Linked DNA regions of Homo sapiens: regions 1, 2, 3 and 5 are each linked to region 4. The links come from fine-mapping of genetic effects on gene expression. A gene starts in region 4. Each other region holds a variant in brackets. All regions are shown on one strand. Distances are between the middles of the regions.

Region 1 (5,822 bases), 70 kb after region 4:
AAGGGTAGAGCAAGACCTACAGGCTTTGCAGGAACTGAACCTATCAGCCTGAAAATAATTAGTATTTCATTCTCTCTGGCACAGCCTTTGACCTGGTACATCTATAGGCAAACCTGTAATTCAGTGATCTGGGTTTCAGAAGAAATTACTTGTGAGCTTTTACTTGAGTCATGAAAGACATTATGTTGTAAACTGATGTTTTCCCTGAAACATCTTTTTGCACTATGTTTGTATGTGTATGTATGTGTATGTATATATATATATATATATATATATATGCTATTCTAACAACTAATATATTACACTAAGTAGTCCAAAGTATTGAGGACTCATAGCTTTGCACAGTGAGACTTAAAATGATGACACACACACACATATATATATATGTGTTTTTTATATATATATATAAAACCTGCCACCTCAGCCTCCCAAGTAGCTGGGACTGCAGGCATGTGCCACTATACTGGCTAATTTTTTTGTATTTTTTGGTAGAGGCAGGGTTTTGCCATGTTCCCCAGGCTGGTCTTGAACTCCTGGGCTCACGTGATCTGAGCGCCTTGGCCTTCCAAAGTGCTGGCATTACAGGCATGAGCCACTGCGCCTGGCCAAAATGACATAATTAGCTTTGATTTGGTCTACTGCTCTTAATCAAAAAGCTTTTTCATCCTTGTCCCCTGGACACAAGGGCAATATGAAGCCTGACGTCTGTTTCTTACAGCTCAACACCATTTCTGGTTGATGTGCTGCCACTATTCCTAGCACTTCTCAGCCATGGTCTTCAAAGTTGTATTTCACTCTATTTTCAAAACATTTCTTCTGTACTCTCATTTTCTTCCTGTTAATTTTCTTCATGATGACATCTGACCCCATTTACTTAAGTAATCCACTGAGGTCTGGTGTCTACTCAATAATTTTGACTACCCTAGGCAGTTTAATGATATCCTAAGGCTTCCTAATGTATGTCTTTTCTTGCCTAGACCTGATATGGGTTAAATGCTAGTCCCTGAATTATTCAATTCCTGTTAGACGGCCTTGATTCAAATGACAAGGAAGAACATCCAGCTTCCGTGAATAGTTAAAAAAAAATTTTTTTTTCCTTAACCCAAGAAAATACACTTGACGGAGGCAGATTACTATAACAGCCTAATAATTCAGCCAATAGTTTTACCAAAAACTATTCAGAATAGAAAAGTAGCTCTAGACTAAATCGTGGTGAATCAGTTGTCTCACCATACAGTAATGAAACAAACCTGAGAAAAAAGGCTTATTTTTTTCTAATGAGTTCCGTTAAATTTATGCTTATGTTCAATTTAACCATATTTATAATGCTTTTATTCGGTATGAAATCTCCACTGTATCACATGAGACTCTTCCACATCCTTTTATTTACTATTTTCTGATTTTTAAAATGACAGTGGCAATTACCATTTATACTGTGTTATTTGTATAAGCTGTTAAACACAACATTGTTAAACACAACGAAAATTCATTTTTCTACCTGAAAGCTGTATCATAGAAAATTATTTTCAAGTTTATATTCAACAGCTTAATAATGTTCAAACCAGGCTGGGCGCGGTGGCTCCCAGCACTTTGGGAGGCCGAGGCGGGTGGATCCTGAGGTTAGGAGTTCAAGACCAGTCTGGCCAAGATGGTGAAACCCTGTCTCTACTAAAAGTACAAAAATTAGCTGGGCGTGGTGGTGGGCGCCTGTAATCCCAGCTACCTGGGACGCTGCGACAGAGAACTGCTTGAACCCGGGAGGCAGAGGTTGCAGTGAACTGAGATCACACCACTGCACTCCAACCTGGGCAACAGAGTGAGAGTCTGTCTCAAAAAAAAAAAAAAAAAAAAAAAAGTTCAAATCAAACACACAGAAATCTATAAACAAACTGGCATATAAGAGTAATAGAATCAGGGCCATTTCTCACAGGTAACAATGAAGACCTGTTTTATCTATTTTTCACTTTTTTTTTTTTTTTTGAGACAGGGTCTTAATCTGTTGCCCAGGCTGGAGTGCAGTGGTGCCAACATGGCTCACTGCAGCCTCGACTTCCCGGGCTCAACTGATCCTCCTACCTCAGACTCCTGAGTAGTTGGGACTACAGGCATGTGCCACTACACCCAGCTATTTTTTATTTTTTAATTTTTTGGTAGAGACAGGGTTTTGCCATGTTGCCCAGGCTCGTCCTGAACTCCTGGGCTCAAATGATCTGCCTGCCTTGGCCTTCAAAAGTGCTGGGATTACAGGCCAGCCCTTTTTTTTAAGAGACAGGGTCTCCCCCTTTCACCCAGGCTACCAGGCTGGTGTGCAGTGGCCGTGATCATAGCTTACTGCAGCCTCAAACTCCTGAGCTCAAGCAATCCTACCACCTCAACCTCCCAAGTATCTGAGATTACAGGTATGCACCACCATGCCTGCCTAATTTTTAAAATTTTTTTAGAGATGGGGTCTCACTGTGTTGCCCAAATTGGTCTCAAACTCCTGGTCTCAAGTGATCCTCCCACCTCAGCCTCCCAAAGCACTGGGATTACAGGCACGAGCCACGGCACCCAGCCTAAAGCAATGTTAGGTTTCAAGAAAAACCTAAGCATAGCCCACTAGTTTTTACTGTTTCCTTTATTATATTGCAATCTGCAAAACTATTTGT[A/T]TTCAGCCAAGTATCTATGTCCAGTTTTAATAAAATAGTAGCCTAAGCTTACAAAATAGACAAATTAAGCAGCAACTGTTGATTCTGAGTAAGTCTGTATGCTATCAAGAACACAAGAATGCAGGATCATGGGAAATGCACGCAAATCCTGTTGAAGCAATGCATGCTTCAACAACCACTGACCACTTTGCATAATTGACTCCATCAATGAATCTGTAATTTAGCTTCTAATTTTTCATAATTGTGCATTTATGGTAGTATGCTTCACTAACTTTAAAGTTAAATGTAAATTACTGTTATAATAAAAACATCTGTTGTACAAATAACTTTAAAGGATTCTAAATATCTACATCAAGAGATATCTATAGATTTACATATTAAATGAATATATTAGAATTAAAATGTTACCTAGTTTACATTTTTCTTTTTTTTTTTTTTTTGAGACAGTCTCGCTCTGTCACCCAGGCTGGAGTGCAGTGGCACAATCTCGGGTCCCTGCAACCTCCACCTCCCAAGTCAAGTGATTCTCCTGCCTCAGCCTCCAGAGTAGCTGGGATTAAAGGCGTGCACCACCACATTCAGCTAATTTTGTTTTTTTAGTAGAGATGGGGTTTCACCATGTTGGCCATGGTTGGTCTTGAACTCCTGACCTCAGGTGATCTGCCCGCTTTGGCCTCCCAAAGTGCTAGGATTACAGGCATGAGCCACTGCGCCTGGCTGCACTTTTCTTAAAATGAATTAATGTTCATAAATTCTCACTTCCAACTTAGTAACATTAATGAGCCACGTCTGAATATTTATTTTCTACATATGATGCACTCTCCACTTCTAAAATGTCATGATATGGCATCCTTATAATTCTACTGATGACTATATAATATTAGTTGATGTTTGGAATCAACAGTTTCAAATGATCCTTTATACTGAAATAAGACACATTATTTTACTTCAATTGTAATTTTAGTTCCAGAGAAGGCAGTGCTGTCTTAAAGGCTTGGACAAGATTTTCTTTTTCTCTTACTCCAGGAAGATCACTTAACAACAAATATTTGAGGTTTCTGCAAATAAAGAAAAAAGTCACTTCAATTTGGCCAAGAGCATTAAAAATAAATTCAATTTACTGACTTAAAGAAAGAAAATTATGTAGAAAATGAATCTATATCACCCTATGCCTTCAAAATTACTTTTAGAGCAGTAGCCTTAGAGATGAAATTCATGCCAGGAAGTAACACAGACTTTGGGTTACATCAATATTTCTAGCTGAATCATTCTAAATAAAATATATATTTATAATGATGTAGATATTCTTTGCATGTGAAACATGAAATGTGAATCTCAACCCCAAAAGGGCAAAAGCTGGGAAAATTCTTAGATACTAGAGTTTCTACTAAAAGATGAAGCTTTGAAGCTTCAAGTAATGTAAGAGATGAACAATCTAGTACTTTTGGTCCTAATGTTTAAAATTTCTTAAACTTCCTGTGATACTGAGGTTACTGGCAGATCCATTATATATTAAAGCAGAACTACATTAATTAGATACATAATTTGAATGTTGAGATCTCTAACACAGGGATTTGATTAAACAAACTTCTAGGCCGGGCACGGTGGCTCACGCCTGTAATCCCAGCACTTTGGGAGGCCGAGGCGGGCGGATCATGAGTTCAGGAGTTCGAGACCAGCTTGGCCAACATGGCGAAACCCCATCTCTACTGAAAATACAAACATTAGCCGGGCGTGGTGGTGCACGCCTTTAATCCCAGCTACTCAGGAGGCTGAGGCAGGAGAATCGCTTGAACCCAGGAAGCGGAAGTTGTAGTGAGCCAAGATCATGCCACTGCACTCCAACCTGGGCAACAAAAGCAAGACTCCGTCTCAAAAAAACAAACAAACAAAAAAACTTCTATTCTTTTTTCATCACGCCGATGAGACTCAGAATCTTACAAATTTTAGAATTAAACATTCCTTGCTAGTATTATCTGTTTTTGCATTTGGGATTAGGTGACTTGCTCCAGGCCATGGCGTGGGTCTGGTTGGTGGCACAAGAGGATGTAGAACAGCTTTCCTAACCAGTGGATGCATGCTTTTGATGATTATTACAGTGTCAGGCAGTGTTCTAGGCTCTAGAGACAGAAAGGTGAATATTTCAAGGTTTTTCTCCCCTCAAGCAAAATAATTACACAGTAAAATGCTAATAGGTATATACCAAATGTCTTGAAAATATTAAAACCATAGGAGAAACTGCTTTAAAAAAAAAGGAGAGAAAGCATAATCGTTGATGCTTACTGAGGGCTTACTGTGGCAGGCACCATGCTAGGTGCTTAATGTAGATTTAATTTTTTAAAATATACTCTATAAAAAATTCAATACAACATTAATGTATTAAGGTTGATCATTTTAGCTGTTTTAAAATATTACAGATGAAAGTGAGGTCATTTTTTAAAATTATCTTTTTTAGAACTAAAAAAAGACACCACCCCTCACAGTCAATTAAATTCTAACTATTCACCTTAACAGCATTATCAAGTTTCCACTTTGGCTTTGATCATCTACCTTAAATGACGCAAAGCAATGATGCCTTTGTCTGTGATATTCCCACAGGATATTATTTCCATTTCCAATATGGTTTTTTGTAAATTTTCAAGTTGACTAAGTCTCAGCAAACAGTCATCCTCGATATAATGACACTTGCACAGCCTTATTTTTTCAACATGCTCTAGGCCCTCTGGGGAGAAAAAGTACAGATTAAGAATCTGCTTTACCACTAAGATGACAAACTGTCCTGGTTTGCCCACGACTGACTTGGTTTTAGGACTGAAAGTCCTATGTCCTGGGAAACCTCTTAGTTCCATGAAAACTGGAATGACTGCTCACCCTATTAACCATATAAGGAATTCACTATAGAGCTTGTGCTGATGGACAGGACCATTCCGCAGTCAGATGCCCACACACTGGAGGAAAGAAATGCCCACATAGGGCCAGGCCCAGTGGCTCACACCTGTAATCCCAGCACTTTGGGAGGCTGAGGCGGGTGGATCACCTGAGGTCGGGAATTCAAGACCAGCCTGGTCAACACGGCAAAACCTTGTCTCTACTAAAAATAGAAAAATTACCCTGGCGTGGTAGTGCACACCTGTAGTCCCAGCTACTTGGGAGGCTGAGGCAGGAGAATCACTT
Region 2 (5,927 bases), 310 kb before region 4:
GGTTGCCACTTCAAAACTCTCCATGGCATGAAAGACTTGGACCGCTATCTCAGAATCCACAACGGGTGACGAACCGCTCAAGTGTGAGTTCTGTGACAAGTGCTTCAGCGGAAGGACAACCTGACCATGCACATGTGATGCCGCACGAGTGTTACCTGTGTGACTATGCTGCCGTGGACAGCAGGAGCCTCAAGAAGCACCTACGGATCCACTCGGACGAGCAGCCATACAAATGCCAGCTCTGCCCCTATGTCAGCCGCAACTCCAGCCAGCTCACCGTCCACCTGCGATCCCACACTGGGGATATCTCCTTCCAGTGCTGGCTCTGTAGCGCCAAGTTCAAAATCAGCTCAGACTTGAAAAGGCACATGATCGTGCACTGGGGGAGAAGCCTTTCGAGTGCGAGTTCTGCAGCGACGTCCGCTGCACCATGAAGGCGAATCTCAAATCGCACATCCGCATCAAGCACACCTTCAAGTGTCTGCACTGTGCCTTCCAGGGCCAGGATGGGCTGACTTCCTGGAGCATAGCTGGCTGCACCAGGCCGACCACCCAGAGAAGTGTCCTGAGTGCAACTCCTGCTCCAGCGCAGCCGCCCTGTGCATACACAGCGGAGTCCACTGTAAGGACTGAAACTTCAAGTGTGACTTCTGCAGCTCCGACGCGAAGTGGCCCAGCAGCCTGGCCAAGCGCATCGACAGGGTGCACAAGGATGAGGCCAAGACAGAGAACTGGGCCTCTCCGGGCAAGGAAGGGCTCACAGAGCAGCTCCCGACACGTGGCCAAGATCGTGAGGCAGAGGGCCTTTCGCTGTGAGACCTGCGGCGCCGCCTTTGTCAGGGATGACTCTGAGATGCCACAAGCAGCAGCACAGTGATCAGAGTGAGAACAAGGACTCAGACTTGGTCGCCTTCCCACCTGCAAGCTGTGCCTCGGGACAGCTCAGCACCATGGTCTCCGTGGGGCAGCTCAAGCCTCCCCTGGAGCCCAGCCAAGACCTCTAGCTCAGAGGAAAAGGATCCTCAGCTGTCAAGATTTCTGACAAATGCTGTTGCCCACCCCTCCAAAAGATGAAGCCAGTGAGACAGGCTTTGGGCACCACTTCCAGGGCTGGCTGCTCCAATTTCACAGGCCTCCAGAGGCGATGGCTGAGATGACAATGATAAAAGCAAAGCAGTACTATGGAGACACTTCTTGCATTTGTGTCTTCCCTCCCAGGACAATCTGAGCAAGTCAACTTAGTCATTCAAACGTAGGGTCTGCTGAGCCCTGCTCTATCCAATGCGGATAGCTTCTATGTAACAGATTCCAATTTTTAAACTGATCCATCTCTGATGGAATTATTAAACTAGTTAGATGATATAGAAAACTAAAACTAATCTCTATAGTGGGACAGGTTAAAGTGAAGAAGGTGTACATGAAGAGTCTGGGATTGCTGGAAAACTTCTATTTCATAACCTGGATGATCGTTCTAAGAGTGTTTGCCTTATATGTTTGTGTGGTTTCTTCTACCTGTTGTCTTGCAATAAAAAGGCAGACTCATAGGTTAAAACAAAATCAAAAACAAAAAAACTCATGTGATTAGACTGGACCCACCTGGACAACCTAGGCTTCATCTAAATATCCATCTAAGTTTCCTTAACCTGAATCATGTCTGCAAAATCCCTTTTGTCAACTGAAATAACATACTCACAACTTCTAAAGATTCAGACATGGAAATCTTTGTGTGATATTTAATTTGCCTACCACAGATGTAGAAGAATTGAACATTGACAACAAACTTGTTATAAAACATTCCACTCAACAGCAGCAGCAGAATACACATTCTTTTTAAGAACACATGGAAAATTAACAAAGATCAGCCACGTTCGGGGGTATAAAACAAGTTTCAATACATTTTAAAGGATCCTAGGTGCTGGAGGTGGCCAAGATGGTTGACTAGAAGCAGGTAATATACGTAGCTCTCATGGAGAGGAACAGAAAGAGCAAGTAAATACAGCACCTTCAACTTAAACATCTAGTTACTCACATTGGGACTAATCAAGGAAGCAACTTGACCCATGGAGGATGGAGAAAAGTAAGGCAGGATGATGGCCCACCCAGGAGCAACATGGAGCCAAGGGAACCTCCCCCGACCCTGGGTAGTGGCACATGAATGTACAACCCCAGGAACCCATGCTTCTCCCATGGATCTTTGCAATCCTTGGGTCAGGAGATCTCCTTGTGAACCCACTCCACCAGGGCCTTCTGACTGACACACACAGCTACATGGAGTCTCAACAGAACAGCCACTCAGGCACATGTGGAGACCCAGGAAAGCCTTGATACTCGGACTCTCCAGACTTCCCAGCAAAAGTAGTTGCAACTCCAGCAAAGCGGGAGGTTTGACCTCTGTACATATCCTTAGGAAAAAGGCTGAATCCAGGGGGCTGAGCAGTGACAATCTGCAGGCCCCACTTCCACAAACCTCACAAGATGAAGACCCACTGGCTTAGAACTCCAGACAGCCACTGGTAGCAGCATTGCACCTCCCTGGGATAAAACTCCAGCAGGGAAGGGTGGGCTGCCATCTTTGCTGTTTGGGCAACTTAGCCGTTCCAGCCTCCAAGCTTTGGAGAGTCTAAGCTGACCAGGGGCGGAAGGGATGCCCCAGCACAGCTGCTTTATAAAACGTGGTCAGACTGCTCTTTTAAGCAGGTCCCCAATCCCTCCTCACTGGGCAGGATCACCAGAGCCTCCAGCCACCTGCGCCCATGTTCTCCAGCCAACAGAGATTTGGAGCCTCCCTGGGATGGAGCTCCCAGCGGGAGGGGTGGGCTGCTATCTTTGCTGTTTGGGTGATAGTATTTCTAGTCTTTAGGCTTTGGAGAGTCCAAGTCAACCTCTGACCAGGCAGAAGCAGTACCCCGGCACAGTACAGCTGCCCTGTGAAACATGGCCAGACTGCTTTTTTAAGCC[G/A]GTCCCCAATTCTGTTCCTCCTCACTGGGCAGGAATTCTCAACTGGGGCCTCCAGCCACCCCCACCAGTGCTGTCTGGCAAACACAGATTTGAAAACTTCCTGGGACAGAAATCCCAGAGGGAAGGGTGGGCCACCATCTTTACTGTTTGGGTAACTTAGCTATTCTAGCCTTTGGACTTTGGAGAGTCCAAGATGACCAGGGGCTGAAGTGGATCCCCAGCACAGCACAGCTGCCCTACCAAAACACAGCCAGACTGCTTTTTCAAGCAGGTCCCTGATCCTACTCCTGATCACCAGGAAGGGTCTGAAGCTATCCCCACGAGTGTTCTTCAGCTGAGAGAAGTTTCAAGCCTCCCCAGGCTGGAGCTCCCAGATGGAGGTGCAGGCCATCATCTTCGCTGTTTGGGTCACTTAGCTATTCTGGCCTTTGAGCTTTGGAGTGTCCGGCACTGAAGGAGACCCCCAGCACAGCACAACCGCTCTACCAAAATGTAGCCAGATTGCCTCTGAAACAGGGTTTCACTCCCATTGCCCAAACTGAGCAATGGCTCTATCTCAGCTCACTGCAACCTCTGCCTCTTGGGCTCAAGTGATTCTCCTGTCGTAGCCTCCCAAGTAGCTAAACTATAGACACACCACCATGCCTGTCTAATTTTTGCATTTTTTGTTGTAGAGGCGGGTTTCACCATGTTGCCTAGGCTGGTGTCAAACTCCTGGGCTCAAGTGATCTGCCTGCCTCAGCCTCCCAAAGTGCTGGGATTACAGACATGAGCCATTGTGTCCAGCCCAGACTACTTTAACTGAGTCTCAGATCCCATTCCTCCTCACTGGGAGCAATGTCCCAACCAGGGTCTCCAGCCACCTCCTACAGGTCTGCTTGGGCTGGCAACAGGTCCCTAATTCCCTGGAGCAGAACTTTCAGAGGGAAAGGCAGGCTACTATCTTTGCTATATTGCAGGCTTCACTGGTGATACATAATGGTAAAGGGTACAATTCAACAGGAAGACACAACTATCCTAAATATACATTCACTCAACACAGGAGCACCCAGATTCATAAAGCAAGTTATTAGAGACCTATAAAGAGACAGACTCCCACACAATTATAGTAGAAGACTTCAACACTCCACTGACAGTATTAGACAGATCAAGGCAGAAAATTAGTAAAGATATTCAGACCTTAACTCAACATTGGACCAAATGGATCTGATAGACCTCTACAGAACTCTCCACCCCAAAACACAATATACATTCTCCTCAAATTGACCACATAATTGGACATAAAACAATCCTCAGCAAAAGCAAAAGAACCAAAGTCATACCAAACACTTTTGGAACACAGTGCAATAAAAACACAAGACTAAGAATATCGCTCAAAACCATGCAATTTTATGGAAATGAAGCATGATCCTAAATGACTTTTGGGTAAATAATGAAATTAAGGCAGAAATCAAGAAGTCTTTGAAACTAATGAGAACAAAGATATAACATAACAGAATCTCTGGGTCACAGCTAAGGCAGTGTTAAGAGGGAAATTCACAGCACTAAATGCCCACATCAAAAAGTTAGAAACATCTCGGCTGGGCACAGTGGCTCATGCCTGTAATCACAGCGCTTCGGGAGGCTGAGGCAGGTGGATCACCTAAGATCAGGAGTTCCAGACCAGCCTTGCCAACATGGAGAAACCCTATCTCTACTAAAAATACGAAATTAGCTGGACGTGGTGGAACATGCCTGTAATCCCAGCTCCTCGGAAGGCTGAGGTAGGAGAATCACTTGAACCCCGGAGGTGGAGGTTGCGGTGAGCCGAGATCATGCTGTTTGCACTCCAGCCTGGGCAACAAGAACGAAACTCCGTCTCAAAAAAAAAAAAAAAGTTAGAAACATCTCAAATTTACAATCTAACATTACAACTGACAGAATAAGAGAAGAACAAATCAACCCCAAAGCTAGCAGGAGACAAGAAATAACCAAAATCAGAGCTGAACTGGAGGAAATCAAGATACCAAAAAAACATTCAAAAGATCAACTAATGAATCCAGGAGGCGGTTTTTTGAAAAGTTAGTAAGACAGATAGGCCACTTGCTATATTAATAAAGAAAAGAGAGAAGATCTGAATAAACACAATTAGAAATGATGAAGGGAATATTACCACTGACCCCACAGAAATAGAAATAACCATCAAACTACTATAAACACCTCTATGCACACAAACTAGAAAACCTGGAAGAGATGGATACATTCTTGGACACATACACCCTCCAAGACTGAACCAGGAAGAAACTGATTTCCTGAACAGACCGATCATGAGCTCTGAAATGGCATCAGTAATAGCCTACCAACCAAACAAAGCCCAGGACCTGATAGATTCATAGCTGAATTCTACTAGATGTAGAAAGAAGAGCTGGTACCATTCCTACAGAAACTATTTCAAAAAAATTCAGGAGGGGGTTCTCTTCCCCAACTCATTCTATGAGGCCAGCATCATCCTGATACCAAAACCAGGCAGAGATACAACAACAACAACAACAACAACAAAGAAAATTTCGGGCCAATATCCTTGATGAACATTGATGTAAAAATCCTCAATGAAATACTGGCAAACCAAATCCAGCAGCACATCCAAAAGCAAATACATCATAATCAGGTAGGCTCCATCCTCAGGATGCAAGTTTGGTTCAAAACACACAAATCAATAAATGTGATTCATCACATAAACAAAACCCACATGATTATCTCAATAGACACAGAAAAGGCTTTTGATAAAATTCAACACCACTTCATATTAAAAACTCAATAAACTAGGTATTCAAGGAACATACCTCAAAATAATAAGAGCCATCTATGAAAAACCCACAGCCAACATTATACCGAATGGGCAAAAGCTGGAAGCATTCCTCTTAAAAACCTGCACAAGGCAAGGATGCCCTCCTTCACCCCTCCTATTCAACATAGTATTGGAAGTCCTA
Region 3 (5,927 bases), 49 kb after region 4:
GCTAGCACGGGCTACAATTTTAAGAACATCTTCCTTAGGCCAGGCATAGTGGCTCATGTCTATAATCCCAGTGTTTTGGGAGGCCAAGGCAGGAGAATCACTTGAACCCAGGAGTTCATGACCAGCCTGGGCAACACAGCAAGACCCCCATTTCTGCAAAAAAAGTATTGGCCAAGCACGGTGGCTCACACCTGTAATCCCAGCACTTTGGGAGGCCAAGGCAGGCAGATTACCTGAGGTCAGGCGTTCGAGCCCAGCCTGGCCAACCATGGCCAACGTGGCGAAACCCCATCTCTACTAAAAATACAAAAATTAGCTGGGTGTGGTGGTGTGTGCCTGTAATCCCAGCTACTTGGGCGGCTGAGGCAGGAGAATTGCTTGAACCCAGAAGGAGAAAGTTGCAGTGAGCCAAGATAGCACCACTGCACTCCAGCCTGGGTGACAGAGGGAGACAACGTCTCAAAAAAACAAAACAAAAAACAAACAACAACAACAACAACAACAAAAAGACAAGAGAGAAGAACAAAGAACATCAAAACATCTGCCTTAGCCTGAAGGGTCCAGCCAGTCACCCAGACTCTTCCAGAGCTGTTAAGTTTGTTGAATATATTCATATTTATTTAAGATTGCATGAGGCAGAGGGCATGGCGATGATACCCCTTACTGTGCATGGCTCTTGGGTCACACTGTCCTGTCAGGATGGGTTGCTTTTGCCACCTGGAGTGCAGTTATCCCGTCATCTCCCTCTGCCATCCTCCCAGAAACTCCTGCTGCTTCCCTCCTGCATTGGGTCTCCAGCCCACATAATCTTCTTTGATAATGGACTGCTCCTTTCTGGTGGACTGCATCCATGAGGGGCTTCCTGAGAAAGAGCAGATGAGAGGTACAGGAACAAATAAGAGGTTGAGACCTTGCCCTCACATGCTTTATTCTATCCTCACACTGGTTTGGTATTTTGTTTGGATATAGGCTTGTTTATTGGTTTTTGGTTGAAGATAATATTCCTTCAAATTTTTGAAGTCATTATTTTAGTGTCTTCTATCTTCTAGTGCCAAGAAGCCTGATGCCATTCTATTTTCTGCTCTCTTGTGAAGTCCTGTTTCTTTTTCCAGAAACTTGTAGGAGATTCTCTTTGTGCTCAGTGTTTTTGATTATGAAACTCATGAGTGTGTCTTGATTTTCATCCATTATCCTGGCACTTGCTGGGCCTTTTCTGCCTCAGAAAAAAATTTTTGAATTGTTTTGTTATTGACTTCCTGTTCATTGTTTTACCTATTTTCTTTTTCTGTACCCTCTATTATTGGGATGTGGACTCTTGAACTGGTCCTCCCATTTTCTTGTAGTATCCTGTTCTTATTTCATGGATACAACAGCTTTCCTGTTCTCTCTGAGGATATTAATGGTATTTAAAAATGTTCTCTTCATCCTCCATAATTTCTGTTTCTTTTAAGTTGCTTTTTTCTGTTTGTTCTGGTCTTCTACTTTCTTATTAGAGGCTTTTCTTGGGCATCATATAGTCTCTGGTTATATGCTCATAGTTAAGAACAAGGAACTACTGGAAGCTCTGAGCTTCACTATGGTTTTCTAGCTGGGCCATTTGCTGGTGGAACCCCAGTGTCAGAATCTTCAGAGCTTTCCCTCTGAGCTTCTCCCAAAAAAGTCTTTGAATATTGTGCCTGGAGAGTGAAGTCTGCCTGCCGGGTTTCCCAGAGTCTAGTGAGGGAAGAGGGGTGGGGAATCCCAGCATTCAGCATTTTGTATGTGTACAGTCCTTTAATCCCCTGTTTTCAGAACAGTATCCACATTTTCAGAACGGTATCCACAATCTCACGTATGCCAAATGTCCTCTGCTTTATCCTTTCCAGAAACAAAGCTCCAGCCTTCTGCCCAGTAGTGGAGAGTGTTTCCCTATGGGCAAATGATAGAGGAGGGGATCTAGGGATTTAATTATTTTCTAAACAGTTTTTTCCATACTCCTTAGCTCCTAGTTCCATAGAGACTTTGGCTGCTACTTCCCGAGCCTTTTGAGGATTCTTTCTGGATGAATTGGTTGGTTCTCCACCTTCCCTCTCCTGGCTTAGATTTTCGCTTTCTAGGATTGTTAAGTTAATTATCTTTCATTCAGTTGCTTTCTGGATTCCACATTGTGTTGCTGTTATCTCTTCTCCTGTCCTCTCTGACCTTGTGAGGTTTTGTCTTTAGAAGTCTTCAGCGTAGTTCTAGTCAGGTTTCAGGAGGGAACAAAATTAGCTGGGCTTGCTTAATCCATCATCTTAATTCAGAAGTCCTTTGACACACTTTCTTCAGTTGGTCCTGTGATACTGTATTCTCCTGAGTGTTGTCTTATTCACTTGATGCTCTCAACTCAGGTGCCCTTGTGGGGTCCCCTTCCTCTTTCTGCTCCTCTGTGGGGAAGGGTCTCACAGCTTCCTTCCGAGCTCCTCTTCTTTAGCTGGATTCACTCCTTAATTGGCTTCATTCAGTCCTAGGCCCCAAATACCACCCATATGCTATGCTTCTCAAACTCATATTTCCAGCCTGACCTTCCTTCTGAATGTAGAATTGCTGACTCACAGTCTTCCTTTGGGTGTCCAGTAAGCATTCCCTTCCCCCAAACCAGTTTCCCCTCCAGTGTTCTCCTGAGTAAAAGGCACCACTGTGTACCAGTTACTCAAGCTAAAAACCTGATGTCATTCCTTGATTCTTCTCTTTCTCCCACATCCAATCCCTCAGAAAATCCTGGAAGCTCTATTTTAAAAATATAGCCCAAATCTGGCCACTTCTCACCACTTAACCACTATTTTAGATGTTCCCTTAACCAGAGAACCTTTCTGGGCCATCCTATATAAGGTGATCAACCCCTTCTAGCACAGCACTCTCACGCTGTCTCTCTCTCTCTCTCTCTAAATCCAACACCACAGAATATATTCTATCTATTTTTCCCCTTTTTATAGTTGTAACTCCCTTCTCCAACAGTGAAAAACTGGCC[C/T]CTCTTATTATGAGTGTTTCAGCTAAAAGGGATCTCAGAGTCTGAGGCCTCTGCATTACAGAAAAGAAACTGAGTAAAGAAGTGAAGTGAGTAGCCAGTTCAAGATGGCACTAAGTAGTTTGTACAGAGTTTTTACATTTGAGAGTTTTGTAATTCTGGGGATTAGCTGTGCTGGGGATTAAAGGAGCAATAATGATATGCAACTATAATTTACTTTTATATGCTCCTTTTATATAATTTATTTGGGGAAATGTTTGTAGGAACTAAAGTTGCCTGGTACTGGTAACCCTATATTAATACTTAATTTGCAGGCCGGGCATGGTGGTTCACACCTGTAATCCCAGCACTTTGGGAGGCTGAGGTGGGCGTATCACTTGAGGTCTGGGGTTTGAGACCAGCCTGGTCAACATGGTGAAACTCTGTCTCTACTAAAAATACAAAAATTAGCTGAGTGTGGTGGCACACACCTGTAATCCCAGCTACTGGAGGCTGAGGCAGGAGAATCGCTTGAACCTGGGAGGCAGAGTTTGCAGTGAGCTGAGATTGTACCACTGCACTTTAGCCTGGGTGACAGAGCAAGACTCCATCTCAAAAAAAAAAAAAAAACCAAAAATTTAATTTATTGAATAATCAAAATATATTCCATTTTTCTGGACAAAATGTAGAGGCTACTGGGAAGGCTGAGGCAGGAGGATCCCTTAAGTCCAGGAGTCCAAAGTTCAGTGAGCTATGATAGCACCACTGCCTCCAGCCTGGGCAGCACAGCAAGACCCTGACCCTAAAAAAAAAAAATTAAAAGTGGAGGCTGGGGAAAAGCATTCCCCCTAATGTCTCATCTTAGTTGCATTTTTCTAAGCCTTTTTTCTCGACAGTGACTTTTTCTAGCATCTATGCCTATATGCCGCTCAAACAAGGAAAAGAGAATTTGGAGAGAAGCAACTTCAAACACAGGGACATAGACCTGGTCCAGCAATGTCCCAACTAGCCTTCCTGGAAGTGGCCTCTTCCTTTCCTTCATGTGATCCCACTCTCTGTTCAAACACCCCCTGATCTGCTTGAAAGGATTTCCTGAACGTCTGGCCTGTGACAACAGTGGCCTTGTAGCCTCTCTCAGAGGCTACAAGTGACTTTTTGTAGTCCCCTTAACACAGCTACTCAAGAGCTTCCTCCCTGATTTACTTATTCGTTTTGGCTGAGGACCACAGCAACACTGTGGAATGTTTATCAAAACAGTAAGTCCAGCCAGTGGGTTGGGGTCTCAGAAAATAAATGCACTCTCTCTGTGGTTCGTTTCTTACACTCCCTGCCTTGGTTTGTTGTTGTTTTAAATGTTTCCAGGCGAGATGCCTCTTTCTAATTCACACAAAGTACCTGCTGGAACTACTGGTTGCCCTGGTAATAAAAGATGTGAGTCAGGGAAGAAGTACTGGGAGCAGTGGCTTGAAGTTTAGCTGTGGTGATGGAGGAGAGAGTAGAAAGATGTACCTGGGCTGCAGCTGGCTGCCATGGCAGCATAGGGAAAGAACCAGGATGCCTCAGGTTTTTAAATTATTATTAACATTTAATAACAATTTACGATGGGGGAGCAAGAGAGACTGCATCAAGACCCTGGTAGGGCAGATCTGGGATGCTAAAAAACAAATAGAATGGTTTGCAATGTAAAGCTCTTTGCTATAATCAGTAAAGTCTTCATTATCTAAAAAACCAAACAAACAACAGCAATGCTGCTCTGAGAGACCACATGCCCACACATGGAAGATGAGTCCTGCTTCAAGGCTGTCTGTTTGGGGCAACTTGAGAAAATAAACAGCATCTTTTGTGCTGAATAGTAACTTAACTTTACATCAATAAAAAATTCCTTGTGAAAATGGAGCTTAAGTTACCAGGCAGTTTCCCAGTGGTGTCACAGATGTTTGAGATAGGTGGTTATAAATACTTGTTGAAATCCCTGTAGGTTTTCATGTCCTTACCAAAGAAGTAGATGTTTGCATTTTTGTTAACCTGTTCTCCCTAGACTTCAGCGGTGTGCTGGTCGCATATTTTTACATTTTGGATTCATGGAATGATTGATGAGTAAGATGACTATGTGTCACCTAAGATTTTTCACTACTAAAGCCTATCTTCGTTTATTTTTTCTTTTCTTGAGCTGAATTCCATGGCTACACTAAAGAATGTGTTTGTGCTGCTTTATTTTTATTAGGGTACCAGAACATCTCGTGAAGAGCATAACTTGGCAGACACTGCAAGCTGTAAATTTTTGCCATAAACACAATGTAAGTCTCATGATCTCTTTTGAAAAGCAACAAGGCTCCCCTTAAGCTGAGGTGGAGCCTTGTACAAAGTTTATGTCACACTTCTGTGGGTAAAATTTTTTACCCAAATCTTCATAAGCCTGGTTGGGTAAGTATAGGCTAAAAATGCCAACCTAGCTATTCCTTCTTGCTCAGGTTATATAAAACATGCATTTTTATGATTTTAAGAAACTAGTGCCAGGCATGGTGGCTCCTGCATGTAATCCCAGGACTTTGGGAGGCCAAGGTAGGCAGATCACTTGAGCCCAGGAGTTCAAGACCAGCCTGGACAACATGGCAAAACCCTGTCTCTACAGAAAATAAAAAAAAATGAACTGGGTGCGGTGGTGTGTGCCTGTGGTCCTGGCTACTCAGGAGGCTGAGGTGGAAGGATCACTTGAGCTGGGGAGGTCGAGGCTGCAGTGAGTCAAGATCATGCCACTGTACTCCAACCTGGATGACAGAATGAGACCCTGTCTCAAAAAAAAAAAAAAAAAAACCACAAAGAACAAAAAATTAGTCATACATTTATACTGCTTAGAAACTACTCAGATTTAAGGTAGAACCCCATTCACTTGGAGTCTATGTGGTCTTGTACTCCCAAAAGGCTATGAAATTGGGGAAAACCCCAGGTGATTCATGCCTGC
Region 4 (5,927 bases):
GCTGGGCATGATGGTGCATGCCTGTAGTTCCAGCTACTTGGGAGGCTGAGGTGGGAGAATCGCTTGAACCTGGGAGGCGGAGGTTGCAGTGAGCCGAGATCACACTATTGCACTCTAGCCTGGGTGACAGAGTGAGACTCCATCTCAAAAAAAAAAAAAAAAAAAAAAATATTTTGAACTGAATGAAAATGATGATACAACATATTAAGATTTCTGTGATGTATTTAAAGTGGTGCTTACAGGAAAAATTATGGCATTAAATGCTTATATTAGAAGGCGGGGTGCAGTGGCTCATGCCTGTAATCCCAGCACTTTGGGAGGTTGAGGCAGGCAGATTATCTGAGCTCAGTAGTTGGAGACCAGCCTAGGCAATATGGTGAAACCCTGTCTCTACAAAAAACACAAAAATTAGCCAGGCGTGGTGGCACACCTACTTTGGAGGCTGAGGCAAGAGGATCGCCTGAGCCTGGGAGGCAGAGGTTGCAGTGAGCCAAGATCACACCACTGCACTCCAGCCTGGATGACAGAGCAAGACTGTCTCAAAAAAAAAAACAAAAAAAATTCTTCCAAACATTTAAGGAATTAATAATACCAATTTAATGTAAACATCTCTAGAAAATAAAAGGGAAGATAAACACTTCCCAACTCATTTTCTGAGATCAGCATTATCCTGATGCCAAAATTAGCAGATATTACAAGAAAACTATACATCAATATCTCTCAAAACATGAATGTAAAAATTTCCAATAAAATATTACTAATCAAATCCAGCAATACATTAAAATGATAAAATCATAAATAAGTTGGGTTTATCCCAGGAACAAAAGGTTGGTTCAACATCTAAAAATCAATATAATTCACCGTATCAACAGACTACATAAAAACAATTAGGTGGTGCACACCTATAATTCTAGCTACTCAGGCCTGGCAGAAGTGGGAGGATTGCTTAGGCCCAGGAGTTCAAGGGTACAGTGAGCAGTGATAACACTACTGCACTCCAGCCTGGGTGACAGAGCGAGACTCCCTCTCAATTAAAAAAAAAAAAGAAAAGAAAGGAAAAGGAAATGATCACCTCTAGATGAAGAAATGCATTTGATAAAATTCAACATCCATTCATAATTTTAAAAAGCAAACAAAAACACTAAGCAAACTAGGAATGAAAGTGAACTTTCTCAACCTCCTATTAATAAAAGGCTTCTGTGTTAGATACATATGGTTGCATAACAAATTACCCCAAAACATAATAGCAAACATATTTCAGTTTCTAGAGGTCAGGAACCCAAGTATGGCTTAGCTGGGTGCCCCTGGCTCAAGGTCTCTCACAAGATTGAACTTACATTGTCATCTGGGGCTACAATCTCATCTGAAAGCTCACTGGAGTTGGGGTGGTGGGGGAGATCCTCTATCCTCAAAAGGCTACATACGGTCTGATTCCATTTTCATGACATTCTGGAAAAGGCAAAACTATAGAGACAGAAAACAGATCAATGGTTGCCATTTGCAAACAATTTCTGTTCACAGACCACCTCTAGGCCATCCTTGTACTGGGTTTCCAGGGCAGCCACCAGCCCTCTCTCCTCAGCTCCAGGCTCCTTTCTGAACCCTTCCTGGGTTTACATTTAGTAGCATGCTGCTTGACACGGGATTGGCCCCTGTTTCATAGACACTGTGTTAATTTTCTCTCCTCGGGTACTGCTTCCAGGACAAGTACCCGCATTGATGCTGGCACTGGGAACGGGACGGATGATAAAGTGTGAGGCACTCTGCCCAGTGGCAACTGACATGATTTCATAATTTCCCCAGGTCCATCCGCTTCCCGCCAGTGTGCTCAGATTTGAGCAGTAGGAGTCCGTTGGGAGAAAGATGGGGGAAAGGAACCAAAAACAATTAAGGCAGACTCTGTAAGCTTCCACCTCCCACACCAGAAAAGTCCCACAGCAGAAGACTGCCGTGGAACCTTCCCTACTGTAGAGGAAAGTGCTGACTTTAAGCAATTTCTGCAGTCACGCCTTCCTCTTCTTTCCTTTCTCCCTCTCATTCATTCACTGACGCCGCAGCACTGATCAGCACAGACACAGAAGATGCCTCCAAGGGACCAAAGGGAATAACCGCGGTTCTGAGGTGTGGGGACTGCTGTTGCAGGGAAATGTGGACCGCTCAGGAGGGGCTCCTAGCGCAGGCGTCTTGCTCCGCAGACGCGGTTACAGCTGCGCTTTGCACGGCCTGCGGAAGTTTGCAAATCTAGCAGGTCTGCTCTCCCGGCAGCAGGACTCGGCCCGCGGTCAGGACAGCTCCCATGGACGGAGGGCGGCCCTCCGAGGCCTTTCCCTGCAGCCGGGAGGGCGGCCGGGCTGGGCCGGGCCGGGGGTGGGAAGCTGGGGCGCGGCGGCCCCGCCCAGGCAGACCCGGGGCGGGAGCCGGTTCCCATAGGGATCGCGGGCCGAGCCACGCCGAGCCGAGCTGGGCGGAAGAAGGCGAGGCGGGAGCCAGGCCCGTCCCTGACCGCCGCGGCGCCGTGAGTCCCGGGCGGGCAAGGAGGCGCGGGCCGTCCCTGGCCAACACGTGGCACCGCTCCATGCTGCGCGGCGCGGCTGAGGTGCACGTCCGGGCGCGGGAGGGTTTTCCCAGTCCCGGGGGCGTGGGGCGCGGGGCGCGGGTTGGTCTCCTGCGGCCAAGCCTCGCCGCCGCCTCCGCGGGGAGCCGGGAGGTGTCTTCTTGCCGCAGGGAAATGAGACCCGAAATTAGAACCGGGGAAGCCCTTAGCCCTCCCCGTACTCCAGCCAGCTCAGGTGTCTTAGATCGGATGAACGATAACGTTAAAAAGATAGCTTATCTTACAGCTCGGCTCGTTTTAGGATGGCAAGTTACATTTTAACTTACAGGGTATTTAACGGGCGATTAAAATCGGGTTACTGGAGGCAGCTAACTCTAGGCTGTTACTCCTGATCGCGTTGCCATTGCCGACACGGGTACACTCTTCATTCCTTAACATGTGCTGTTCTGTTCTAGGACCGTGACAAACACTCATCGTTGGGTGGGGCTCTAGTGCAGTCCGTTGGTGCCAATATTTTATAAGCGACGTTTTCAAACTATGTGAAGATCCTTTCTTTTCTTTTCTTTCTTTCTTTTTTTTTTTTTTTTTTTTTTTTTTTTGAGACGGAATCTCGCTCTGTCGCCCGGGCTGGAGTGCAGTGGCGCGATCTCGGCTCACTGCAACCTGCGCCTCCCAGGTTCACGCGATTCTCCTGCCTCAGTCTCCTGAGTTGCTGGGACTACGGGCGCCCATCACCACACCCGGCTAATTTTTTGTATCTTTAGTAGAGACGGAGTTTCAGTATGTTGGCCAGACTGGTCTCGAACTCCTGACCTCAGGTGATCTGCCCGCCTCAGCCTCCCAAAGTGCTGGGATTACAGGCGTGAGCCACCATTCTCGGCTGAAGATCCATTTTAAGAAGATTTATTCCTCTATGATGGAGAAGTATGAAAAAATTGGGAAAATTGGAGAAGGATCCTATGGAGTTGTTTTCAAATGTAGAAACAGGGACACGGGTCAGATTGTGGCCATCAAGAAGTTTCTGGAATCAGAAGATGACCCTGTCATAAAGAAAATTGCCCTTCGGGAAATCCGAATGCTCAAGGTAATTGATTCACTTTTCCTTTTTTTTCTTTTTCGAGACAGGGTTTCACTCTGTCTCCCAGGCTGGAGTGCAGCCATGTGATCATAGCTCACAGCAGCCTGGAACTCCTGGGCTCAAGCCATGCTTCTGCCTCAGCCTCCTGAGTAGCTGGGATTACAGGTTCTAGCCACTGCTCCGGGATCCACTTTTTCTTTAAAGTGAATTTTTAGGGATGAAAGAAATAAAGTGAGTCATGTTATGTTAAAAGAATGTCATGGGACATGGTTATATCTTACTTCATAGCCTTTTGACTTCAGTGACACAAATGGGATATCTGTGCACAAGTCACTAATTATATAATGAACTAGAAAGCAGAGACAAAAGTGCCAGGTAAGGTGGCATTCACTTTTAGAGATGCTGTGGGATATTTATTTTTCTTCCCCATAATTTCTCTCCCACCTGTAGACCTGGGTTTTCAAGGACCATTACAATTTGATAGTATAGGAATGTAAGACAATTCAATTTTGCTGGCATTGTTGATTTTTAAACTTCTAAGGTATTTCCTATTGGTATACTCAGTCTATTAAGAGAATTAACATTTACCTGTTTTCAAACTGCTAGGAAGCTCACAGATTCTCATTACACCTCATATGTATTTACTGCTGAGCATCATCATGTCCCGTTTCTAAAAAGAAGCGTTTTTCTTAAAGAAGTGAAATGATCACTTTCTAATTTTTTTTAACATTTTTTAGAGATGGGATCTTGCTATGTTGGCCAGGCTGGTCTCGAGTTCCTGGCCTTAAGTGATCCTTCCACCTTGGCCTCCTAAAGTGGTGGGATTACAGGCATGATCCATCGAGCCTGGCCTGATCACTTTTCAAATGTTTATTAGTTAACCCTAAAAATAACATGATATCAGAGGGGGGAAAGGTATTTATTACAAGCTGAAAGTGTGTTTTTCGCTAATGGAGAGACTACTTTACAGAACTTCTGTGAAGGTAAAATCCAAATCGCAATGTGAAAGGTGACATGTAATGAATATGGTGGAGGTCAACTTTGTTTCAGTTATGGCCTCTCTGTTCTGACCTGTATAACTACTATGTGACAAGGGAAGAGCTACTTGATGAGAGACAGATGAATGAAACTTCCAGGGGATTTACTATTATTCTTGCTTCTCCATTTTCTCCAGATCACTCTACAAATCTTGTGCCCATGGATAAGTGTGTGGGGTCACTTCTAGATAAGGAACCTAAATGGAAAGTAGCAAGCTTTGGATAAATTGGAATGGGTGGGTAACAGGGCAACTTCTCTATTTAGGTTTGGAATGTTCTTAACCAACAGGATATTATCTATTGAGAGGAGATGCTTCCAAAGCCCCGCAGGGGAGTGCTCCCATGGGCAGGGGTGAGACCTGCAGTGTTTTGACCATCCCCCTGCCCGGGTCACCCTACCCTTACCCTCTCTGTACACAGGGAGAGGCTGTTGGGCATTTTCACTTCCTCAGGCTTTCCCAGGGGAGGAGGTGATCATTACATTTCAAAGGGTTCATTTACCTGAAAGAAAATCTGTTTCTTGCAGAAAGATACTCTTTTTCTGATTCTGAAGATTACTTTTGTGAATGCTCCTTTCAAATCTCTCACTACACTTTATCAATACTACATTAACAGTGATAGCTCCCCAAATTCATTGAGTTCTTCTGGGATGGAGACCTTGCCTCTGTAGCTCTATATCCCCAAAGCACACTAGTTGGCACATCTAGGCCTCCAAAAAATGTCATTGTTGGATTGGAAAAAAAAGTTAACAAAATAAACTCTTAACAAAGGTGGATGTTGCCAATAAATGGGGAAGTCAAATGTGTTCTCTTATCTGAATATTGATATCCTCCAAAGGATGGGGTTGTGTACACATGAGCCTGATTTCAAAGCATGCAGCACCCCACTCTCCAAATTAAGTGCACAGATGTAGACACCACTGATCTCTATGAAATGGTGGGACTAGATTATAGGTAGAGTCTGTTCTTTAAAGCTGTAACTTTTCAGAGTTGTGTGATATTCCTAACACATAATACGTACTAGGCTGGGCATGGTGGTGCGTGCCTGTGGTCCTAGCTACTAAGGAAAGAGGCCAAGGCAAGAGGATGGCTTAAGCCCAGCAGTTCAAGGCTATGGTGAGCTATGATTAGGCCACTGTATTCTATCTAGCCTGGGTGACAGTGAGACCCTGTCACTTATAAAATAAAGATACTTAATAAATATTTGTTGAGTAGGTGAATTGAGGGTATGGTAAATGAACATTTTATTTTCTCCATTT
Region 5 (5,826 bases), 63 kb after region 4:
GAGGCCTGCTTGCTTCTGGGGCTGTGAAACGCTCACAGATGGGCTCCAGCGTATCACAGGCAACCAGTTGGCCTCATCCAGACATTGTTGCTGAGACAGCAGAGCTCGATGATATAGCAATGGCACGTCAAACCCCAGTGATGCTCAGATTCAACCGACAGAAAGAACAAGAGAAATATTTAAGCTATGGAGCATGAGTGGAAGTATGAGGGTGCAACAGGGGCTACTGTCAAGGGCTAATACAAACCTACTTTAGGATTTTTTTTTTCTCCTGTTGACATAGGGAACTCTGAAACAGAGGCTCTTCTCTCCTACTCTTATCAATGATTAGTATGTGTACAATCCAGAATTGGTTATTGGGAGCTGGTTGCCTGTCCAAAATAATACTGTACTGTGAAAGCTGGCCACAGCACCAGGACTGTTTGATTAGATGAGCCTGGCCAGTCACTCCAGTCGGCAGCTCACACACTGCCACTTTTATACACACAATGCACTGCAGTCACTTATTTTGCTCAGCTTGGCTGGCTCTTATTTTCTCAGCCTCTCTGCTCAATTAGCCTTTGTCAGTGGTATGTCTCTTTAACTGGCCTGTTTGTCTGCCTGACATTCGGCATTCCTCCCATTTATAGTGTTATTCCTGATTGTCTCCAGCACGTGACTGGCGCAAAATCGCCTTATACGGCCAAAAGGAGATTGACGAATGCCCCACAGGAGACTGTTTAAACAGCAGGCTGAGAAGGGAAGCAGCAGGCCCTAGTGGGAGGAGACAACAGTGTTTATTCCAGAAAATCAAGAAGCATCTGTTCACCTGGGTAGGGGAAAAACATCTATTTTGCAGCTCCCTTTATATAATTAGAATTAGAGCTGCCTTTTTTTTTTTTTTTTTTTTTTTTTGAGACAGGGTCTTGCTCTGTCGCCCATGCTGGAGTGCAGTGGCACATTTATGGCTTACTGCAGCCTCAATCTCCCAAACCCACGCCATCCTCCCGCCTTAGCCTCCCAAGTAGCTAGTACTAGAGGCGCACACCACCACCCCCAGCTAGTTTTTTGGTATTTTTTTTAGAGAGACAGACAGGGTTTCATCATGTTGCCCAGGCTGGTCTCAAATTCCTGGGCTCAAGCCATCAGACTTGGCCTGAGTGGATTATAGGCATGAGCCACCGCACCCAGCCAGCTACCTTTTTATAAATCACACTATAAATGCCAAAAATTATTCTCAGGAAAGGCAAGTTATATAACTTGAGCCCCCCCACCCCCTCAAAAAAAAAACTGCTCAGAAAAGTTTTTTTTCATTAGTATTTTTATTTATAATTTGCTATCTCCATTGGTATCAGAGCAGGAAGTTAAGGGAGTAGTTACGAAGCAAATTTGGAAAAGCGATTTGGAGGTGGGGAGAGAAAGCTTGTGAAAAAGGCAAAGGGAGACTGTTTTGGGCAGGAGGTTGGGTGGGCAAAGGGTGGAGGACGTGAGGAAGGTGCCAGGAAAATGTTTCTATCAAAAGATTTAATTTGAGGTAACCTTAATTTGAATACATGCTGTAAATTAAAAACCTCTTTTCTTTTCAACAGGAACCACTTGAATTAAAATTCCCAAACATCTCTTATCCTGCCCTGGGGCTCCTAAAGGTAAAAATCATGGCTTCCAACAGACCAGGAAGCACACAGCAGTTGTCATCACTGGGGAATCTGAATTACTTATGTCAATCCATGCAATGAAAAGTGTTCCTTTTAGAATTCTTCTCCTGGCTGGGCAGTGGCTCACACCTGTAATCCTAGCACTTTGGGAGGCCAAGGCAGGCAGATCACCTGAGGTCAGTTCAAAACCAGCCTGGTCAACATGGTGAAACCGTCTCTACTAAAAATAAAAAAAATTAGGCGTGGTGGCGCTCGCCTGTAATCCCGACTACTCAGGAGGGTGAGGCGGGAGAATTGCTTGAGCCTGGGAGGCGGAGGTTGCAGTGAGTTGAGATTGCACGACTGCACTCCAGCTTGGGTGACAGAGTAAGACTCCGTCTCAAAAAAAAAAAAAATTCTCCTTGGAAAAGTATATTTTCAATTTTTTTAAATGGATCACATCCTATTAAGAAAACATTTGCAAGTATTTTCCACTTTAAATAAACCTAACATTATATTTGAAGTCTAAATTTACACAAAACAGAAATTTCAGGGGGGTGGTGATTGTTTTACAAAGGGAACTTTTTCTTCAGAAAATCCTTAGCTGCAGGATCCTTTTAAATAGCTAACTCCCTGGTACATTTGAAGTACATTTAAAAACTTGATATATATATTTATATATATATATATTTAGAAATATAGCTCTTATGTAAAATGAGGTATGGTATCAACTAAAATGTTTGCAAGTTACAGTCAATGTCCCACATGGTTTAAAAATTATTTATTTACTGATGTATTAAATAATGAGTTAATATAAATGATAATGTAACTGTTACCTGAAAGGGGTCCCAATCCGGACCCCAAAGGAAGGTTCTTGGACCTCATGCAAGAAAGAATTCAGGGCGTGTCCACACAGTAAAGTGGAAGCAAATTTATTAACAAAGTAAAGGAATAAAAGAATGGCTACTCTATAGGCAGCAGTGCTGTGGGCTGCTCAACTGAGTATACTTACAGTTATTTCTTGATTATATGCTAAACAAGGGGTGGTTTATGAGTTTTCCAGGAGAGGGCAGGGATTTTCTGGAACTGAGGGTTCCTCCCCTTTTTAGACTATTTAGGGTAACTTCTGGGCATTGCTATGGGTATTTGTAGACTGTCATGGTGCTGGTGAAAGTGTCTTTTAGCATGCTAACACATTATAATTAGTGTACAACGAGGAGTGAGGACAACCAGACATCACTTTCATCACCATCTTGGTTTTGGCCGGCTTCTTTACTGCATCCTGTTTTATCATCAGGTCATTGTGACCTATATTTTGTGCCGACCTGCTATCTCATCCTGTGAGTAACAATGCCAAACCTCCTGGGAATGCAGCCCAGTAGGTCTCAGCCTTATTTTACCCAGCCCCTATTCAAGATGGTGTTGCTGTGGTTTCAACACCTCTGACATAACCAACAAAAACTGAGTCAATTCCTTGGAGTATGTAGTTGTGAAATTTAATCTAATCTATCCAAGAATGAGCTCCATGGCCTACTTAGTTGCAACAAAAATAGTTAAGAATGATGTAATATAAAGGCATGTACGTTATGCCTCTCCTTATATACATGATCATATATACTTATAATGCATCAACTATTTCTGGAGGGATACACCAAAAAAAAAAAAAAAAAAAAGTAGCTGATTTTAGAAGGGTGAAGGGAACACCTACAGTGGTGGAGACTTTGCTGTATGCTGTATTAACTGTATTTGTTATCATGTGTAAATATCATTTTTAAAATAAAAACACTAGTTTTTACAAAGTACATGCAAGGGACCAAACTGGCTAAATGGATTACCCCATTTGGCCACTGAGGTAAACTCTAAAATTATATCTTACTCTCCCAGGGCAGAGTACCAATTGCTTCAAGAACAGAATAAGGTGGAGAAAATGATTTTTCATTACTACTTCTAGAAACTATTTATTTAATATGTGAGTGCCATTTAGGAATGACTGGAAGGAACTAAAATCATGACTGGTGTGTTTTCCTGCCTTTTCCCCCTTCTTATTGCAACTGAAGTTTCATCTTTCAAAGAAGAAAAAAATGACATTAATAAGTTAATACAATTTTGAAGAAGTAAGAAGAAGGAATTTTCTGTTCTTTTAGGGCTGTCTCCACATGGACCCTACT[C/G]AAAGGCTGACATGTGAACAGCTGTTGCATCACCCATATTTTGAAAACATCAGAGAAATAGAGGATTTGGCAAAAGAACACAACAAACCAACAAGGAAGACCCTAAGAAAGAGCCGAAAGCACCACTGCTTTACAGAAACATCCAAGGTTATAATTTGAAATGATCTCCTACCTGCCACCTGGTACAGAGAGTTGGAATCTAGACTTGAGGATGGCAGTTGTGGCTTTCAGCTCCAGCATCCTCATTCCAGCACTAGGAGACAGGTCATAGGATCTATCAACCAGGGCCCCAGGGACATCTGTCTCCTGAAGCCCCCTCTCCCTGAATCCTAAAGGTGCCCTTGTCCTGCTGCTTCCTGATGCCACACAGGGGCCAGGGTTTCCAGCCTGCATGAGCACAGGTCTCAACAAGGTACATGAGTATGAGTCCAGCTAAGGAGACTTTTTGGGCTTTGGAAAATGAAATCAGATTTTCCCCATGCAGTTCTGTGTCATCATGTACACTTTTAGTATTAAAACTAACACTCCAGGTTTGTCCAAAAAAGGAGCTGTTTTCCTCCCTGATCCTTTGTCAGAGTTGGCTAGGGCAAATACAGTGATGAGTGCTTTTGGTGGTATCAGCTGAATACATTTAACCAGAGAACAGCATCCAAACTGCACACTGGGAGACTGTGAAGAATCCTGATTGGTATAAAATGGCCTTACATTAAGCATCTTGTGATAAGCCAAAAGCTGTAATAATTTAGAATGAACTGTAGTTGGAACCACAACTGATCCTGGGTAACCTCAGGATCTACCTAGGTACTCCTTAAGCTATACATTATCTTGCCTTAGTCTTTCTCTTTGCAGCTTCCACTGCCCAGCATGCTGAATGGTACCAGGGTGTGTTGTGTATGAGGCTGGGAGGAGGGAAAAGGGTGAAAAAGGTCCATGAGGAACAAGTACAGCATGAACTCCAGGGCCCTAATGTAGATCACAGTTACAAAATTAATGTTTTATTCTCCATCATATGTGACCCAGGTAGCACAACAGGCCAGAAACAGACTCCTCCACCCCCACGCCAGAATTATTCCTTATCTCAGTATTAGTTTGTATTCGAGAGCAAAAGGTTTTGATGGAAATATTTCTATTTGAAAAAATAGGGAAACTCCACTATTTGGTGTATTGATTTTTTTTGAGACTGAGTCTCACTCTGTCGCTCAGGCTAGAGTGCAGTGGTATGATCTTGGCTCACTGCAACCTCTGCCTCCCAGGTTCAAGTGAGTCTCCTGCCTCAGCCTCCCCAGTAGCTGGGATTACAGGCATGTGCCAGTATGCCTAACTAATTTCTATATTTTTAGTAGAGACAGGGTTTCGCCATGTTGGCAGGCTGGTCTCGACTCCTGACCTCAGGTGATCCATCCGCCTTGGCCTCCCAAAGTGCTGGGATTACAGGCATGAGCCACCGCACCTGGCCTGGTGTACTGCTTTTAAATCCTGAAAGAATCAACTGATTTAAAAGTACTAAAAAGCACTTTTCTGAGGACAATGGCTGAAAAATTTTTTTCTAGAAAGTAAAAGTACTAAACAGTTCCCTTTTTAGGGATACCGAAGGACATATAGTGCAATACAAAAAATACAGGTGTGTTCTTTCATTTGACATTGACAATAAATTCAAACATTTTCAGGAAGCTTGAAGGAAGCAGTTTGTCTTTTTTCTTTAGAGATGGGGATCTTGCTATGTTGCCCAGGCTGCTCTCCTGGGCTCAAGGGATGCTCCCACTCAGCCTCCCTTGTAGCTGGAACTACAAGTGTACACTGTGCCATGCTTGATTTGCCTTTTTAACTAAGGGAAGAGAGTGAGTAGGCAAATTGCCTAGGTGCTCTGTTTATCAGTTTTCTCCGCTATAAGACAAGGCATTGGCTTAAATGATCCCTAAGATCTCAGCAAGCTCTCAACTCCTGTAAATCTATGTTTTCTTCCCAATAATGTTAACATGTAGATTTTCCCCTTTTCATATTCTCTAAATCTTCTTTAATGTGAATGTTTTTCCTTTTTAATATAA

What was found. PIP is the estimated chance that this variant, and not a neighbour inherited with it, causes the effect.
Region 1: its variant is the best candidate, but not a certain one, in a credible set for the expression of CDKL1 in whole blood (INTERVAL, PIP 0.64).
Region 2: its variant is the best candidate, but not a certain one, in a credible set for the expression of CDKL1 in unexposed skin (GTEx, PIP 0.53).
Region 3: its variant is the best candidate, but not a certain one, in a credible set for the expression of CDKL1 in whole blood (INTERVAL, PIP 0.50).
Region 5: its variant is the best candidate, but not a certain one, in a credible set for the expression of CDKL1 in whole blood (TOPMed, PIP 0.85).

What each region holds. Positions count from the first base shown.
Region 1 is chr14:50,323,493-50,329,314 of GRCh38, reverse strand. DMAC2L (distal membrane arm assembly component 2 like) reads right to left here. Exons shown (of 6, transcript NM_001382507.1): 5 at 5,199-5,370; 6 at 1,358-3,706. The coding sequence ends at 3,592. It overlaps CDKL1 (cyclin dependent kinase like 1), which reads left to right. Exons shown (of 10, transcript NM_004196.7): 10 at 1-3,050. Among named protein-coding and RNA genes, the nearest start is that of DMAC2L, 14 kb to the right of the region's middle. The variant A/T (reference allele first, on the strand shown) is at 2,649.
Region 2 is chr14:50,699,433-50,705,359 of GRCh38, reverse strand. It overlaps the pseudogene ZFP64P1. Among named protein-coding and RNA genes, the nearest start is that of SAV1, 34 kb to the right of the region's middle. The variant G/A (reference allele first, on the strand shown) is at 2,959.
Region 3 is chr14:50,344,321-50,350,247 of GRCh38, reverse strand. It overlaps CDKL1 (cyclin dependent kinase like 1), which reads left to right. Exons shown (of 10, transcript NM_004196.7): 4 at 5,190-5,262. Among named protein-coding and RNA genes, the nearest start is that of DMAC2L, 35 kb to the right of the region's middle. RefSeq lists an enhancer at 2,443-2,737. The variant C/T (reference allele first, on the strand shown) is at 2,990.
Region 4 is chr14:50,393,412-50,399,338 of GRCh38, reverse strand. CDKL1 (cyclin dependent kinase like 1) reads left to right here and starts at 2,458. Exons shown (of 10, transcript NM_004196.7): 1 at 2,458-2,515; 2 at 3,010-3,638. The coding sequence starts at 3,471. RefSeq lists silencers at 2,140-2,365, 2,305-2,754 and an enhancer at 2,047-2,546.
Region 5 is chr14:50,330,364-50,336,189 of GRCh38, reverse strand. It overlaps CDKL1 (cyclin dependent kinase like 1), which reads left to right. Exons shown (of 10, transcript NM_004196.7): 8 at 1,569-1,625; 9 at 3,758-3,928. Among named protein-coding and RNA genes, the nearest start is that of DMAC2L, 21 kb to the right of the region's middle. RefSeq lists an enhancer at 26-647. The variant C/G (reference allele first, on the strand shown) is at 3,782.